Regions from separate parts of the Homo sapiens genome. Here region 2 is linked to region 1. Evidence: fine-mapped expression QTL. A gene starts in region 1. The other region holds a variant in brackets. All regions are shown on one strand. Distances are from middle to middle. Region 1 holds the start of EPHA6 (EPH receptor A6). Region 2 has its middle 24 kb from the start of MIR8060.

Evidence for each region.
Region 2: its variant is fine-mapped to the expression of EPHA6 in esophagus muscle (GTEx, PIP 0.95).

Annotation. Positions count from the first base shown.
Region 1 is chr3:96,809,966-96,819,496 of GRCh38, reverse strand. EPHA6 (EPH receptor A6) reads right to left here and starts at 4,903. Exons shown (of 18, transcript NM_001080448.3): 1 at 4,489-4,903. The coding sequence starts at 4,873. It overlaps LOC124909397 (a long non-coding RNA gene), which reads left to right and starts at 5,090. Exons shown (of 2, transcript XR_007095974.1): 1 at 5,090-5,462; 2 at 6,387-8,676. RefSeq lists silencers at 5,818-5,937, 5,998-6,067.
Region 2 is chr3:96,331,044-96,340,763 of GRCh38, reverse strand. No RefSeq gene overlaps it. Among named protein-coding and RNA genes, the nearest start is that of MIR8060, 24 kb to the left of the region's middle. The variant A/G (reference allele first, on the strand shown) is at 5,376.

The DNA.
Region 1 (9,531 bases):
AACAAATGGAGCATGCAGTCAGAAGCATTTGTGTATGTGAGGTGGGAGAGAGAAAGAGAGAGAGTTACTGAAATTGTGATAGGGAAAAAGGGTTGGTAGAGGGAAATTTATATCTTTTGTACTTAAGTCATTTATACTAACAATGATTAGTGAAGAAACAAAGAAGCAAAAGGCTTTCTACTCTAATATTTTTTAATACTTATTTTGTGATGTAAAAGTAACAAAAAAGTAAAAGGATGTAATTTAATCATTAATTTCCCCTGTACCAATAGATATATACTTTTCCCTTAGGAAATTCATATAAAAGTGCTATAGTCATGAATACTAAATTAACTTCAACTATATTCATTTAAGTTATTTTTTGTTTGAAGAAGAGTTCCTTAAGGATTATGTATAATTTTTGTGCAAGAAATTTTCTTTTAGATATAGTATTATCCCAAGACCAGAACAAACAACAATTAGATGATCACTGCTGGAACTGCATAAAAACATTTTATCTTTGTACTTTGGATGCTAATCAATAATGACTAATTATACAATTACTTATTTTATATTGTAAATGTATAATAAAATTATATTCTAAGTTGTATTTATACTTATGTCTAACAAGAAGTGATGTGATAACAATCTCTGGAACCCTTACAACTATAAATAGTTTATCCTCAAAAACTAATTTCTTCTAAATGAATGGTCTTTCAGAAACATTCTAAGTAATCCAGTGTTCCTAATTTAACAAAATTTTTAATATTTTCAGCATTTTAATGTTTACTTTTGAAAAATCTTTAAAAATTTCCTCAATGTCTCCATTTCTATAAATATAAGAACAATATTCAATCAGAGTTTGTGAATAAAACATATGGATAAAACTAATTTTAGGCCATGAATTTTGTTAAGCAGATGTTTTTCTGCTTAGATATATTTATTTGTATTTATATACAACTCAGTGGATTATGCAGTTGATTCGCTCAAATTAATAAATTTAATGAAATCAACCAGCCACACTATTGTTTTGCTTATTTTGTTTGTCACTGAATTGCCTGGGGGGAAAATCGATTCACAAAGTATTGCTAATAAAATAAGTTCACTAGACTAACTTACCCATACCATACTTTGACTTAATTGAATTATTTGAGTATGCAATTGATTATTTGTAAAAGCATGAGCCACACCCTTAGATATGCATCAACTCATTTAGGCTATAAAGTAGTATTTGCTGCAGAATAATCTTTGAATGAATGGATCCCTGGTGTCTACTGGCCACTGTGATACACGGTAAATGGTTAACTTATACATGAAGCAAGATTGTGTTTTATATTCATATAAGTGTATAGTACAGAAATGAAAGGCTATATTCCTTGAAAAGATGAAATGTTTTTAAAATAAAAATTTCCAACACTTAATTAATACTGTGGTTTTAAATACAGGGAAAATTAATTGACTATGAGAGAGATTTAAACACAATTCATGTTTCCACTTACTTAATCAGATGAAGTGATCTAGGAAGAACCTTTACTTTCTGATCGATTCAAGGAGGTTTGGTTCATAGGAAGAGAGAGTCAAATTGATTTATTTCATCTTTACAGTCAGCTTCACACTCAGTTAAAAGACAAGAGAAGAGATCCTTTCTATAGTCAAGTTACTGTTTGCACCACGTTAAAAGAATGAGGTAGTTTACTTTTTTGTCATTATCATCATCATTTTACCTTGCTTATGTATGGAAAAATGGGGATTGGGGTGGGGGTTGTGGGAAAGGTGAATCCATTCTTTTCAGCCATGAAGGATGTCATATAATTTGGTAAAACAGATATATAACATTAAAATTTTATTTTGTGAATATCTTTAATCAGGAAGAAGTTACATATAAATGTAATTTTACCCTCTATAAAATAACAAATTTCAAAATTAAAACATTAATTCCATTAGCCTTTAAAGTGAAAATTATTGGACAATTAAAACTATCTTCTCAATACTAAATATGAATTATATTACTGTTTATTTTTATGTGTATAATAAATCAAATTTATATTTTACATTTATCTTTCCATGTTGAATACATATGATAATTCTATAATGTCCCATTTTCCATGTTTAAAAATAGATGCTTTATTTTATCCATTATGAAACTACGAGTAAGGAAAATATCCCTAAAATGTTATTAAGAATAACATTTAGAAACCTAGCATTTTATTAACCATTAGTGTGATGATTTCAATATTTGAAAGTTATCTCAACTTATTATCAGGAAAAATTTCTACTCACTATGACTTTAGGCTGTAAAAAGCATCATTTTATAAGTAATAATTTGTGTCTGATAAAAATTCTGATTATAATGTTCTTTTGAAGAAGTCACCTAAATTTTATCCAATTTAACCTTCAGGTACTATTTTGCCCACTGTACTCTTATGCACAGCCTGTGTTATCGGTATATCAATACAAATTCAAATTAAGAGTTTAAGTAGACAATCTTTAATGCTTCTATTTAACTGATGGGAAAATTGGATAATACTCATTCACTAAGTTTAGCTAATTAATAAAAATAAATAAATTACATATGTTTGGCATATATTCTAGGTCAAACATCTGTAAATACTATGAGAAAGTCATTAAAATAGATAAGCAAATAAAAATTACTGGAAGAGGTTAATAAATAACATCTCGATGCTTTTAAATTTACTATGAATGTCTGAAAGGTCATGCTTTAACAGGACATATTTTGGCAGAATGGCACTTTAGGGTCATTTGTAGATTCAGATATCTGTTTTATTTATGTTAGTATCCCCTGGGCCTAGGGTAGTTACTGATGCATCATAGGTATTTAAATAAATAAACATTGTTTGGGGAAATTATTGCATGGGAACAACTGTTACAAACTTCTAGTACACTTGACTCTCAAAGTATTCATCTCTAGTATCCTTACTTACTATTATAAAGTACAGTATCAATGTCTGACTTTCCAATTATTAAAAATTGTTTTGTCATAATAAAAAAGGGTAATCGTTACACGTTTTTTAACAATCTTCTACCTTCACAGAAATGAAGTTAACTACCTATTCAATATTTTATACCCACAGTCTTTGAAAATAAATGAGGGATGTAGTGTGATGGTATATACCACCACAGCAAAACAGGACACTGTAACTGATATCTATTATGTGATCTATCTTCAAAGCCATGAAGGTTATGTATGGTTTCCAAATTCACCTACACATTTGTGATTGCATTCTGTCAGTTTAAAATAACTGTAATAATTAGGAAAATATGCCAAAGTACCACTGTATAAATGAGAACAATTTAATAATTATATTTTATTCTGATTCTGAACATTTCTAAGTAAAATGGCCATATATGTTGATGACAAAGAAGAATGCTGTGTTGTTTATCTTCTCCCTTAACCTTCTCCTCACACAAAAAGTGAACACTTTCAAGCCATCTGACCTCCATTTTTATACCTGCAAATTACTTCGAGACTCTGAAACATATGCCTTATGTGTTAAATGATAACTATAACTGACTACCACACATAATATTTGAAGGGACATATCGGTTGGTCATTACAGCACGAGTGAGAGAATATCTAGCCAGATACATGCTGGGAAACTTTTATGGTTGTTTCATGCTTAGTCTGAAAGGACTTAGAATATGCAGGTGGTACTTTTTATAGATCTTTATGCACAGCAGAAATACAAGGAGATATATTTCATGAAGATTGTATGAATAGAAAAAGGGAAAATGCTCAAATATTCCAAGGGCTTTCCATCACTTTTTAACCACTATTTACCTTCACTTTACCACTTTACCCACCGAAACAAAGTCCTCCAAGCAATCTGTCAGTGACTTGACTTCATGAATAGGGTATTCACAACTTGGAAATTCACCCTAAACCCTTTTCTACTCCCTGCCCGCAAGAATATGAAACCCCTACACAGATCTGGAGCATCTGGTCTAGGAAGAATTTCGAGTAAGTCTACTTCGGTGGCCTGGATGGTAGATGAAGCATGGGGACTGAGGCTGGGCGAGGGCGGCAGTCACCGGAGGGGTGGGGAAAGACTGATAACTGGTCACGGGGTACAGCGGGAGCACCCTGCCTTTCAAGAAGGCATGTGGGAGAACCACACGTTCCCCTGAGAAGAGCGACCACCAAAGAGCCAGAAGTCTCCATTAAGTCTGTGCCACGGAGCCTGACTTCCAGTGGAGACAGCGCAGCGGGGAGCGGTCCCACGGCCGCTAGCGGTGGGACCCAACTGCAGCTGATGCTCACGCTACCGTTTAAAGACATTTAGAAACACAACGGATCCTAGCCTGTGGAGTCACCGTCCCGGGCGGTGTAAACAGGGCGCTAGGGTAAGGGGACATCCTCGATCCCCTCGTGTGGCGAGCCAGGAGACTCTGACCCCTGTACAAAGTTACCTGCAGGAGGCAACCAGTACCCTGGTTCTCCAAGCACCCTCCTCCTCCCACCCACTCCCGCTCCTCCGCCCCGTCCCTTACCTTGGTTGTTGGAGACGTGACTGCAGTCGCCTGGCCACGCTGTCAGCAGAGGCAAGAAGAAACCAAATTGCAAAAGAAATTCCCGGACTTCGCAGCCCCCCATGGTTCTCCTAGGCTCTCTTTTCCTCTCCCTTAAAGAGAAGTGGCGGCAGCGCAGGCAGGTGTTCTGGGTAGGATGGGGGTCCTTGTCCACGTCTTCTTCCTCCTCCTCCTCTTCCTCCTCCACCCGGCCCGCAGGGGGTGTCCCGGGGCGCCCCCTGCGCGAGGTCCCGGGAACAGGGCACGAGGGTCCAGGCTGCCCAGTTGCAGGTGCAGCTGCTTCGGAGGAGGACGCTGCCTGCGGCGCCGGGGAGCTCCTCGCGGCTGGAGGCGAGGGGAATTGCATCCACCACAGTGTCCCGCTTGCGCGAGGACTATTCACTTGGGCCGGAGAGAGCGCGCGCGCGCAAGAGCGAGCTCGGGCTGTGGTTTGGGGGAGGGGAGCGAGGGGGCGGGGAGCGCCTCACCGCGAGGACGGGGGCGGGGACGGACTGCCAGGTGGGGCGGGCAGTTGGGGCGGCCCGAGGACCTCTCCCGACTCAAGTGGGCACTTGCGGAGCCAAAAGCAGGGGAGGCGCTGCAGCTGTGAAGAGGCGTGGGGGCCGCGGGAACTTTCCTCTGGCCGGTGCGATGAAAGCCGGGCGGACGAGGTGGCTCAACGGGGCTGAGAGTGGTTCGGCCGAGGCGCGGGCTGAGCCCTCAGCACCTGGCCTGAGCGGCGTGGGCAGCAGCCTGCACCGCGGACACCTCCAACTCTGCCGCGTCTGCGCCGCACTCTGGCCGTGGCAGCGATTTTCCGGGCATCTCTGAGGCCGCCCTTAGTCCCACAAGCACTTAGCCGCCCATTTCAGAGCAGCGGCGCCGACCGTTTTAAGAGGAGTCAGTTCCCGACACCGCCTCCCACTTACTTCTCCACATTTCCACCGCTGGAGGGGGTGAGTGCCGTGGACAGGCGCTCCCGTCCGGGGACAGCTCAGCGGCGGCAGTCAGCCCGACCCTCCTCCGCGCGGGTCGCCCAAACTTGACCAGCAGAGCGAGCGGCTCAGCGCAGTAGCCGCCTTCGCGGCTTCCAGTTGTAGAAAAGCAAAGCGCCGGGAGGAAGCAGCAGAGGGGGGGTTACATGAGGCTGGAAAGTGGCGGGTGTACGGCGCCCGGGATCGCCGAGGTCCTTGCGTCGCCTTGCGGAGGTGACTTCGCGGTGGAGGTCACGAGCATCGTCGCAGCCTTGACGCTGGGATTCAGGGGTCCCCGAGCGTCCACGGCGTGGTGGCGTCGGGCCGCGCTCTCCTAGCAGTCCAAGGGCCGAGTGGCGCGTGGCCACATCCACAGCAGCGCAGGGGCGCCGTGGGCTGACGGCTCTCCCCGCGCGAGCCGCCCCCTCGCGGCACCCACTCCCTCCCCGCGCTCGGGTCTCCCGGAAGCCGAGGCGCGGGCCACTTGGTGGGACTCCGCGGCCCCCGCCCCAGGGCCGGGGCAACGCGGCGTGCTGACTGGGAGGACCCTCGGCGTCCGCGGTCTCCACCACCTCGCCCCGCGGCGGAGGCGGGCGCCCAGGGCAGGGACGGAGCCCGGAGCGCTGCAGAGCCCGGCCAAGCCCAGCCTTCTCCCGGCCTGGCAGCCGCGGCTCGGATGCCGCCAGTTCGGCGCTAGAGGGGGTTAGTCGACAACAAAAATGCCTGCACCGCTCGCAGGTGGAGGCGGCTCATCAGGCCAGGAACCGAAAGGAGGGAGGGATGCTGTCAGGCTAAACTTAACGCCTTGGTTAAGGGCGCGTCAAGGAAACCGTATCGCTTGGGTGGGGATTTCCGTGATACTTTATTTGTTACTAGTATTTCCAACATCATTTTTCTTTCTTGAAGGGACTTCGGCTATCACAGTCGAGGGAGGTTGAAAACCCCACTTCAAAACCCGTCGGAATGTTTTGAGAAAATGTGGATGGTAATGGAGAAATGTGAACAGAGGAGAGAAAGTAGCGGTCTTGTAAAGGATATACGATATTTTCCAAGTGGGCAGAAAGCACAGGAGGGAAATGGCACAGTGACAAGAGGTCAGGGGAGCGGGAGATGGAGCCAAGGGTCGGCGTTTGACGCTTACAGAGTTCTGGAAGGGAAAGGACCCTTCTATTCCATGCATTCCTGCGCTGCGATGTTTTTGTGCCACACACCATAGCTGAAGAAGTTTCACTTAATGCCTTACAGTAAATTGGAAGGAAAGAAAGAATGAGAGCAAGAAATGTCCCATGTCAAAAATTCTGCTGCGTGGAGAGAAATGGTGAAATACAAGCGATTTGGAGAATGTGAGGAAGGGTTCTGATTGGTGACTATACTCTCATTCTCATTAGGAATTCATACACCTCTGCCTCTCTTTGAAGGTGTGTCCACACCAACTTAAATGTATGCAAATCATTTCTAAAAAGATACCATGTGTGGAGTTTATATATCGGCACTTAAGAGTAAAATCTGACTTTGATACTCATTTTGCCACTCTTACTGATATTGATTGACCACATGAGCATTTGCAAACTCATTTTAGAGTTTATAAACTCAGTTACAAAATAAAAAGACTACATTATCACCATTATAATATAAATCATTGTGTCTAAATAATGTTCTTAGAAATTTCTAATGATTCATTATCTGATAATTTTATTCAAAATCTCTTTTTATATACTGTCAAAAATATGTTTCCATGACCTTTTATAATTAAATTTTCATTTTTAAATGTTGGCTTACAGTAAATCTATAAACTTCATTAATAATTCACTAAAAGAAAAATCGTTCAAGAAAGTCCTTATAAATTGAAGGAATGTATAATATTATTATTTTAAAAATATAAACCATGTGAATCTATTTCTATACTTTTACTTTTGAAATTAACTAGACTTGCAAGGGAAACATTTTTAATGGAACATCACCAAAAAGAAGTTATTTCAGTATAATTCCTAACATAAAATATTTTAAAATCAAAGTTTAAAATCAAGTTCTGATGTTTTACTTGAGTGTTGCATTTTAGAGAATATGTTATAAAACACCAAGAAGTTTCACTTAAAATTAGACTAGAAGGCAGTACTTTTAGTGGAAGGAAGGGGAAAAGGCAGAAAAAAAAAAGGAGAAAGAAATAGAGAGGAAAACTTAGATTCATTTCTAGGATTCACGCTTAGTTAGAAATCATAGCACAGTGCCTGAAACATAACCTGTTACTTCAAAGTAACAATAATCCGCTTAATTAACCTGAATTTCTAGTCCCCCCATGCACTGTACTTACAATTCAGCTACAGTTCATAATTTGTATTTGTTTAAATGAGCCAAAGTCAAGCTTGACATATATATCTGGTTAGATAATTGATAGTCATATTCTTGTCTTGGCTTTTAAGAAAAAAATATTACAAGATTTTTCTCAATATTAAAACATACTTCACATGTTTACGTATGTTTGGATGCTATCTATTGCATGCCTAGAAGATAATGACATCTTAAGTAAAAACTCATCTAAAAAATGAGTTAAAATATGATTATCATTGCCTTTGACAATAGCAAGATTCCATGAGTTTGACATGATTATTAATGTTAAAACATGATTGTAAAAAAGAATTACCATGACCGTTTGACCATTTATATGTTTATATATATATGTGATATATATATATATATACACACACAAAGATGCACAAATATATATGTGCATGTCTCTCTAAAATATTTGTTTAGTTCTTTTTATGTGCTAAATTCTCTTCACTCAGGGAAGAGTTAATGGTAAACTACTTTGTGTAACAATAATTTCTTTTATTAAGCTAACATTTTATTTAAAATATAATCATGGTTATCTATGTAAGCTAGATGCAATTACACTTAGAAATGTACTTCCTTTTTGATTTTCTAGCAGTGTTGATATATTTGCTGACATGTGACAGTTTCAAAATTATAAGCTACTCAATGAACCAGATGCAATATTCATGTAGATTTATCTGCACTTGTCTGTTTGAATCATACCCATACTCAGAAAAGCATTCATGTCTCATTTTTCAGAACTATATTGTTCAGAATTCTTCTGTATTCTCTCAGACTATTGTTCTTCACGATATATGTGGTCTGGATTCAGGTAAGAAATGATGAAATTTTTTATTAAATAAAGGATATATGACATTAAAAACTGGTGTGCTTTTATTTATAGTAGAAATAATAGTATTCATAAATATTATTTGCTTTTTAAAATGATTAAAAGAGGAGAGACTTAACCTGCAATTACTTCCTTTGAGAAAAAAAGAAGGATTATAATGTTTAATACTCAGCATGTTTCAAGACTTGAGAAAGTCTTAAGTATATTATTCTGGTAAAAGAGTAAATTAATCCATTCACAGCAGCAATTTGCATTCTCTAAGGTCAAGGTAGAAAAAACATAAATAAAAAGAATGTTGATCCTCAAATATGACAAAATATCAGGTCTTAAAAGATTAGGTATGTACTTTGAAAAGAACAAATTGCATAAATCTTTTTTGATAATATAAAATGTAAAGACATGCTGTAGGCAATAATATTATCATATTCATGCCATCAACTTTAAAATATGTTAGTTACAAGATTGTATTCTATGTGTTTCAGCATTGAAACCGCTAAAATAAAAATAAAATCCACAATGTCAAATATAGTTAATTTGAGTCTCTTTGCGTTTAGGAAGTATGTAATTAGGGGAAAACATACACATTGTTTACTTCAGAAATTTTGCTTTGGTGTTAGGAAGTAGATAATAATTTTCTGGAAAAGAACATTCAAAGCAGTGAATTCTAAGCATATCATATCTTAGAAACCTTACAGAAAAAAATGCAACTTGAAGTTACATAAAATGTACTATTGTTGATTCTGCTGTGATAATTGAATTTTGGTTCTTGTGTTACATTCAGTGAAAGAAAAATATATGCACATATGTCATATACATATCATATTACCTATGTGTGTGCATGAAATTCAATAAAAACATTCTCTCTAGTACTTTTCTAATTCAGTAACC
Region 2 (9,720 bases), 480 kb after region 1:
TCTTGGGTGCATATGGCAGATAGAGTTATCCCCCTTGGGTAAAATTTGTGATAGGACTCTGCCTTTTACTCCCTTGAGTAAGATTTATGATGGAAGCTGCCAATTTTGGTCTCTTCAAGGTCCTACAATCAATGGGTAAGGAGCCTTAAGATTTATGATGCAGGGTCTGAATGATCTGGTTGGGGTGCCTGCTGCCCATGCCCCACCCGACCATCAGCTTGCATTAGAAGTCTTCAGTAAGGCAAAAGGTTGGGGAATGAGTCCCATGCCTCATCTGTCTCATTTCCCCCTGAGAGATTTTATGTTCCTTATTCTTAAGGAAAAGAATCAGAGGTTTCATTTTCTGGAGTTGTTTCTTGGTGAGCCAAGCTATCGACCCTGACTAAATTTGAAAGTTCTGCAAATGCCTTACTGACTGATCTATTGATTTATAGTGACTAGACTCCCCTTGGGATGGTATGAGTTGAAATGCTTGTGACTTCATCAGCTATATGTGGAACCATTGGAGCTTGGAAGATATAAACTTTACCAAAAGGTAAAAAGACAGGAGCCAAAAAAAATAATAATAAAATGATTATCACTGGTCCCAGAAAAGGCAGGAACCACTAATGCTTGGTAGATTTTTTAATAGAGTCCCAGATGGTTTTAGCAGAGGGGTTATTAAAATTATATAGCTGTATTAGTCCATTTTCTTACCACAGATAAAGACATACCCAAGATTGGGTAATTTATGAACAAAAAGAGGTTTAATGGACTCACAGTTCCAGATGGCTGGGGAGGCCTCACAGTCATGGTGGTAGGTGAAAGCCATGTCTCATACAGTGCCAGACAAGAGACAATGAGAACCAAGTGAAAAGTGTTTCTCCTTATAAAACCATCAGCTCTCGTAAGACTTATTCACTACCAGGAGAACAGTAGGGAGAAAACTGCCCCCATGATTCAATTACCTCCCACTGGGTTGGGTCTCTTCCACTACATGTGGGAATTACGGGAGCTGATATTCAAGATGAGATTTGGATAGGGACACAGCCAAACCATGTTATTCCACCTCTGGCCCCTCCCAGATCTCATGTCCTCACATTTCAAAACCAATCATGCCTTCCCAACAGTCCTCCAAAGTCTTAACTCATTTCAGCATTAACTCAAAAGTCCACAGTCCAAAGTTTCATCTGAGACAAGGCAAGTCCCTTCTACCTATGAGCCTGTAAAGTCAAAAACAAGTTAGTTACTTCCTAGACACAATGGAGATACAGGCATTTGGTAAATACAGCCATTCTGAATGGGAGAAATTTGCCAAAACAAAGGGGCTACAGGCCCCATGCAAATCCAAAATCCAGCAGGCAGTCAAATCTTAAAGCTCCAAAATGATCTCCTTTGACTACATGTCTCATATCCAGTTCACGCTGATGCAAGAGGTAGGTTCCCATGGTCTTAGGCAGCTCCGCCCCTGTGGCTTGCAGGGTACAGCCCCATGTTGGCTGCTTTCTTGCACTGGCATTGAGTGTCTGTGGCTTTTCCAGGTGCACAGTGCAACCTGTAGGTGGATCTACCATTCTGGGATCTGGAGGATGGTGGCCCTCTTCTGACAGCTCCACTAGGCAGTGCCCCAGCTGGGACTCTGTATGGAGGCTCCAACCCCACATTTCCCCTCTGCACTGGCCTGTCAGAGGTTCTCCATTAGGGTCCTGTCTCTGCAGCAAACTTCTTCCTGGACATCCAGGCATTTCCACACATCCTCTGAAATCTAAGTGGATGATCCCAAACCTCAGTTCTTGACTTCTATGCACTCACAGGCTCAACACCATGTGGAAGCTTTCAAGGCTTGGGGCTTGCACCCTCTGAAGCCACAGACCGAGCTGTACCTTGGCCCCTTTTAGCCATGGCTAGAGTGGCTAGGATGCAGGGCACCAAGTCCCTAGGCTGCACATAGCAGTGAGGCCCTGGACCTGGCCCAAGAAACCATTTTTTCTCCTTGGTCTCTTAGCCTGTGATGGGAGGAGCTGCCAAAAAGCTCTCTGACATGTCCTGGGGACATTTTTTTCCCATTGTCTTGGTGATTAACTTTTGGCTCCTCATTACTTTGCTCGTTTCTGTTGCCGGCTTCAGTTTCTCCCCAGAAAATGGGTTTTTCTTTTCAATGGCATCATCAGGTTACAAATTTTCCAAACCTTTATGCTGTTTGCGTTTTAAAACTGAATGCTTTTAACAGCACCAAAGACACCTCTTGAATGTTTTGCTGCTTAGAAATTTAGAAATTTAGTAATTTCTTCTGCCAGATAACCAGATAAATCATCTCCCTCAAGTCAAAGTTCTACAAATTTCTAGAGCAGGGGCAAAATGCCACCAGTCGCTTTGCTAAAACATAACAAGAGTCAACTTTATTCTCGTTCCCAACAAGTTCCTCATCTCCATCTGAGACTACTTTGGACGTGTTTTCATTGTCCATACTGTTATCAGTGTTTTGGTCAAAGGCATTCAACAAGTCTCTAGGAAATTCCAAACTGTCCCTCATTTTTCTGTTTTCTTCTGAGCCCTCCAAACTGCTCTAATCTCTGCCTTTTACCCAGTTCCAAAGCCACTTCCACATTTTCAGGTATCTTAACAGCAGTGCTCTACTCTATTGGTACCAATTTACTGTATTAGTTCATTTTCACATGCTGATAAAGACATACACAAGACTGGGTAATTTATAAACAAAAAAGTTTAATGGACTCACAGTTCCACGTGGCTGGGGAGGCCTCAAAATCATGGTGGAAGGTAAAGGCATGCCTTCCGTGGTGACAGACCAGAAAGAAGGAGAACCAAGGGAAAGAGGTTTCCCCTTATAAAACCTTCAGATCTCCTGAGACTTATTCACTACCAAGAGAACAGTAGGGAAGGAACTGTTCCCATGATTCAGTTGTCTCCCACTGGGTCCTTCCCACACATGTAGGAATTATGGAAGCTACCATTCAAGATGAGATTTGGGTGGAGACACAGCCAACCCATAACAATAGCCATGTAGCCTGTTGGAGGATGAGTCCTGTCCTTTGTTCTATTTCTCCAGTAACATTAATGTAGAAATAATAGGATATATTTGTAATAGCACATAATTCTCTTTTTTTAGTCAGTAAGTAATCAAAGGTTAATTGATGGTCTAGGATCATTGAAGCCAGGGAGTCTAACAACTTTTGTATGAGCTTAACATTCTGTCCCATTCCAGCTGCCACTGTGGATATAATGACTGTAACATTTTGTGTGACGGTATTGTTGTAAACTATTTCCCTGGCTAGTCCTATCAAGGAATCAATTAAGGTTACTATTTCATTAATTAGAATACCAACTGCTTGCTTTGACTTTCTTGTTGGCCGATACGTACTATCAAGGCTATTGGAGAATACTTTGATTTTTTGGTGGGGTGGTGCAATATATATCACAGCCCAATCACTGCCAGTATTGTTGGGATCAAGGCATTAAACTGCTATCATTTTCCCTTCTAACAGTCAAGGAAGGAAAGGGATTACAGCCTTGCTGAGCAGCATGGTCTATTTCCCTATACCCAACAAGGACAAAGGAAATTTTTGTCCAGGGGAGTGGGCTAAGAAAAGTCACAAAATATCCGCAAGGCAATCAATATCATCAGGAAAATCATCAGACTTAGAGACAGGTAATATATTTGTCTGTAAACTGGCCTTCTTGAACAGGTACTTGAGGTCCTCCATGGGCTCACCTCTATTATAAGAAATAAGCTTCAGCCATTAGTGTTATTTTGGTCTGCAGAAAAACTTGGAAATGTAAGTTAGGAGACTGGTAGCCCAGAAATAACTTGAGATGTAGTCTAAATTATAGAAAAAATTCAAAAAACTCAAAAACAATGGAAAAGGCTGAAATCTAAGAACAGTTTTATTATAGTGTTTTTTGAAACATTATTTTTCTCTCTCCAGTTTCCCATTTTTAGACAAAACTAATAGGACCAATTTGTTTGCAAAATAAGTTTTAATGTTATTATAGTGGCCTTGCTTCTTTGCATAAAGTGTACCAAGAAAAAATATTTGACATATAGATTTATAGTCATTCTGTTTTGTTTTGTTTTGTTTGTTTTTTTTTTCAACTTCACTTTGCTGAAACTCATTTTCATAAGGGATCTCAGATTAGATGTTTTCAAGCCTTGAGCCAAGCCACAGATTTATCTGTGCCTGCAAATACCTGTATGAATTGGGTGAATGCCTGTCCTGTTGAGATCCCAATATAACTTGGGGTTTCTAGACCTGTTAGAAAGTGCCATTCTTTACTTACCACAGGTGGGAAATCCTGTACAAGGACTATATACTCAAGGTATGAGGCCAGTTTTTCCAAAGGGTTTTTATCAGGTCTATAAGTCATCTTCAATTTATAAAGCATGCCATTGCAGTTAAAGCTTTGGTAAAAACACAAGTCTCTAAATGTGTCTTGTTAGAAAAGAAAATTGATTCTTATTTCACTTATGCTAAAAACTGTATTGACATAAGTTAAGAATACACAAAAATAGTTTTTATATTCTGGAGAAATTTGGTAGAGATAAAGAAGTATGTTCTAAATTTTGCTTCTAGGAGTATATTTTCCTCTATTGTTGAAAGCTGTAAAAAAAAACTAAAAAAAAAGTGTTTTGGCTCTGAAAAACAAAACAAAAAAAGCAATAGCAATTAGAGAAAACACAGTCATAAGAAGTTTTTTTTAAAACTTCTATTAGTTTAGTTCATGCAGGTAACTCTTGTTTTAATCAATATTTAGAAACATATTAGTGCTTCAAGAGGGACTTTGAAGTTTTTTGCTCTATCCTAATGGCCCAATCTCTAGTTATTAGAAACCTGCATTCAAGAGCAACTGTCAGAGACCTACAGCTGATTATAAAACCACTTTCTGAGAAGGATCAAAAAGTAAAACAACAATTGCAGATGACAAAAATTTCAGAACAACCATGGTTAATGACACAACTGAAAATAAAATTTGGTTATTTTATGATATACAACAATTTAACGTAAACATAAATATTACTGAAAATATTATAATTGAGACATATCCAAAATAACGGAGTCCTGTGGAATTCTGGAACACATATTAATAATACTTTTATTCAAACATTCCTCCATCAAAGCCAAACATTTATTTTACACTTGACAATGTTTCTTGTATAATTTTAATATGTTATATAAGCCAAATGTCTCTTTTTGACTTGATTTTAGAAATTTTGTCAAATATCAAAGGTTTAAAACACTCAACATCACAAAATAGGATCTCAGGTTATTTATTTAGCCAAAGTGCTAACTCAAACATTTCAAAAAAGTGAAATCCTTTAGTTATTTATACAAGGGTGACTCAGCTTTCCAAATAACAAGACCTAATAAAGACAGAAAAAA[A/G]TAACCTAAAAAATCCCCTTCAAATTTTGGCTAGCTTTCTTCCACACCTAACTTTCCTTATAAGATTAAACTTTTATACATCTTTTATAACCTGCTAAAACTTTAGTTCTGTAGTATTATTCTTTGAATTTAGGATGATCTGTATAAGCCTCTAAATTCAAGAAAATTATTTTTCCTATAACAAAAGCCATATTTCAATACCTTTTTGTGACCTTTTATTAAAAAAACACTTTTTACTTTACATACTTTACATGTAAAACTGTTTTTCCAGTAGTCTCACTTAGAAATGTTACAATATTATCTCTTAACAACTTTTAATTTTAGTGAAAAACTTGGTTAGTAAAAATTTTAACCATGTATCAGATTGCAGAGCCCAGAACAAGGACAGAGCTGCAGACAGTATCTGAGTCTTCCCAGCCTAGCCAGGGCACATAGCTAACTTCACATGTCTCCAGGCCTTACCTAGATTCTAATAGCTGTAAAACAGACAAGTGAAACAATTATCAAAAATGTCATAGAATCAGTTTATGACCTTAAAGCACCTTGTGAACGAAGTTTCTGACCTGCTTAATTTAGACCAAGGCTAAATAGTGAAGAAGTTTTAAATTTTATTTTACCAAAAATCTTTAAAATTGTCTGTATTTATCAACAATTGTTGAAGTCATATGAAACGAAAGAGCAATGGATTTAAGTTGCGAGTACTCATTTACTTATAAGCCAATTTGGTATTCTGCTAGACAAAACATATATCATAATATATGTACATAAACACATCTAAACATGTGGACATACACATAAACAAAGATTCAATAGCTTTTACCTTGGAATTCTAGTCATTTTATAAAAGACAGCAATATGAACTCACCATTTTATAAAATATAGCTGGATTCAAATTATTTTTCTAACAAAATTGTAACCTGTTCATATGGCTAAACTTTTCCTGTCCTGATAAGTAATCTAAGGAAAGCTGTGTACCAAATTTGGATAAAGTAGCCTGTATGGTAGTTTAGTTTTAAAACTCTCTTTTACCTCTTTTTTTCTTTAGTTTTAAACAAGTTTTTTAAAAGTTTACATTTCAGTTAAACCATAAACATTGAGTCTTATCTCATCACCAGCAGCTTAACAATAGCAGATGCAAAGCAGGCAGAAAAGAAATAGGGGGAGATAGAGAATGTTAGACGACTTGACTTAAATCTGTAGTTACAGATTATTAGCATTCTGAACTTTTTTTATTGTGCAGAAAACCAATAATTACTGTCACACTCAGATGTGCCTGGTGCCTTCCTGAAGGCCAGAAGTGTGGCAAAGAGAAGCAAAGCATTAATGATGAGTTTTACACAAAGATACAAAATCAAAATCTAGGTACATAAGGAGAGAAAAAAAAAGGGAGAGAGAGATATATATTTCCTGGGACTCAAACCCAAATCAACTAATGTGAAGGATGAAGTGAAACCCATCTCACTGACAACTGGGTTGATTATACTCAGATCAGCTGTTTCAATCTGTCCTTTATAAATATATATTCAAGTGTCCCAGACTGGTAAAACTGAGTTGACTGTTTCAACTTGTCTCATATGGATGTCCATTTAGATCCAACTTTCTGTGTTAAGAAGTGAGGAAGAGAGGAGGGGCACCCTGAGTGGCAGAAAAGATAGGAAAGGGAAAAGAGAGTAAAGAGAGAGGAAGGGAAGGGAAAAGAGCATGGCTCAGTGGAGGTGGCAAGGAGCTCTGGAGGTTGAAGAAAGACTCACCAGCTGTGGTGACACTGAATCAAAGATTCAGGGGGCGTCTCACTAGCTGTGTAGTGATCTTGTCCAGCAGTCCTTTTAGCCCACGAATCTCCCCCATCATGGGAGAAAGGGCGCTCCGTGTCCCATGATCTCATATGAGCCCCCAATTAATATATTACCAAACACAGATTCTTGTGCTATCAATGCAATAGAAATTGACAGAAGGCCAAAGGAGTTTTCCCAGCAAAACTTTATTTGATTCTATGCCCAGGCATAAGAGAGAGAAAATTCTCTGCCTGCCTCTCTGAAGAGAGTCAGGAGAGTAATTTTAAAGGAGCTAAAATGGGAAGGAAGTGACATGTAAGCATTTAGAGGTGGGGAACGTCTGGTATCTGGGCAGTCTGATAACATGCTTCTTCATGTATTGCATGTCTCATTAGCATGTTAAATCTCCACCCCTGGCTGTGATTTTTGATATTACAGTGAGGCAAAGGGCAAAGACTGATCATTATTTTGATCTTCTGAGCGTATGGGTAATATGGTTATCTTCAGCGGGTAAAACTTATAGTGGGTCTCCACGTTTTAATTCCCTTTAGTAAGATTTATGGCAAAAGCTGCTAATTTTAGTCTCCTCATGGTGACACAGTTGGTCAGTTAGGTACCTTGAGTAAGGTTTATGGTGCAAGGTCTGGACAGTCCGGTGGGGTCCCTGCTGGCCATGCCTGCTCCACCAAATTAGCTTGCAGTAGACGTCCTTGGTGGGGTATAGGGAGGGGCTGAGTTCTGTCTTTACTCTGTCTCAGAAAGAGAAAGAAAATCCCACTATAAGAGTAGTCTTTTAAGCCATTCTGACGTACATAGGCAAATTTAATTCCTACATTTTCTATTTTCTATTATATAATATTTGGTATTCATTTCTATTTTAACAGTTTGTAGTTTTATATTTAGACTCCGAAGTCCTGAGAAATACATTTTCTTGTTTTCATTTTCATTTTGGAACAAAGTAGCTAGTACAAAGTAAACATTCCATAATTTTAGTTGAATTAATGAAATAATGAAATCATAGAATTTTAGACTTAGAAAGAACCAAACATGTTTGACACTAATGTGAGTCTCATATTCTTTTTTTTTTTTTTTTCTTTTGAGATGGAGTCTCGCTTTGTCACCCAGGCTGGAGTGCAGTGGCGTGATCTCAGCTCACTGCAATATCCACCTCCCAGGTTCAAGTGATTCTCCTGCCTAAACCTCCGAAGTAGCTGGAATTACAGGTGCCCACCACCACGCCTGGCTAATTTTTGTATTTTTAGTAGAGACGGGGCTTCACCATGTTTGCCAGGCTGGTCTGGAACTCCTGACATCAAGTTATCAGCCCACTTTGGCCTCCCAAAGTGCTAGGATTACAAGCGTGAGCCACCGCACCCGGCCTCACATTCTTTGAGTTCAATCTTACTATTGTTAGGGGTGGCAAATATCTGAGCCTCACAGCACCACATATGTTACCAGTGGCAGGTATCCGAGTTACCAGTGGCCAATTGTATGGGTCTGCAGCAAACTCAATTCTTGCCTTCTCAGAAGAAAGAATTCGACTGAGAGGCATAAGGCAGAAAAAGAGAACAAGGCAAGTTTCAGAGCTGGAGTGGAAGTGTATTTAAAAAGGCTGTATAACAGGAAAAAAAGGAAAGTACACTTGGAAGAAACCCAAGTGGGCACGTGAAGGTCAAGTGTGGTGTTTAACCTTGATCCTAGGGCTTTACAGGCTGGTCCCTTTCCCATGATTATTCCCTTAGAGTGGGCTCCCCACATGGGCAGTGCCCTCCTTAACCTTGGGATGTGAGCATGTGCAGTGTGTTTAGGAAGTTTTACACATGTCCACCTGAGGCTTTCTTCCCTTTTCCACTCGTGTCTCCAGAAGGTCATACTCCACCATTTTGTCTCTTAATGTGTATGCCCAAGAAGTTACTTCTCCTTGGCACCTGCATTTAATTAACACTTTTGTGCAACAAGTATGGACCATCAGGAAATGGCCTCTCCCTGGTGCCAGCTGCCAATTTATCAGTTTTAGAGAGGCAATGTGAAAATTGCCAAACCGTCACCCTACATTTCTATCTGGTGAGGGAGAGCCCTCTCCTGGCCTACTTATGCCTAACTACCTATAACAATATAATATTCAACTATTCATAACTACCTGGTATTGGTGTAATGTGTAATGATAGACAAACAGATTTAAAAAAAGAGAATTGGTGTAAAAAATTAAACATACACAACTGAGTTTTGATAAAATACCCAGGACAAAGGCTAGTCTTTTCAACAGATGTTGCAAGAACAATAGCTACCAATATGGAAAAAAATTAAATGTTGACCTTAACCTCACTATAAACACAAAAATTAACTTGGAATTGAGCATCACTATTAACATAAAGGCTAAAATTTAAAAACTTCTGGAAAATATCACATTTCTACAAGAAGCAGGACACACCATGACCCATTTACAAGGAATTGAGGGTAAGTGAGCAAAGGAAATACGCAGACTGCTGGGGGTGATGGAAGTGTCTGTGTGGTACAATATGAAATATAAAATGTATTTGGTCTTCGTCCTAGGTTTCTGTCACAGAGCT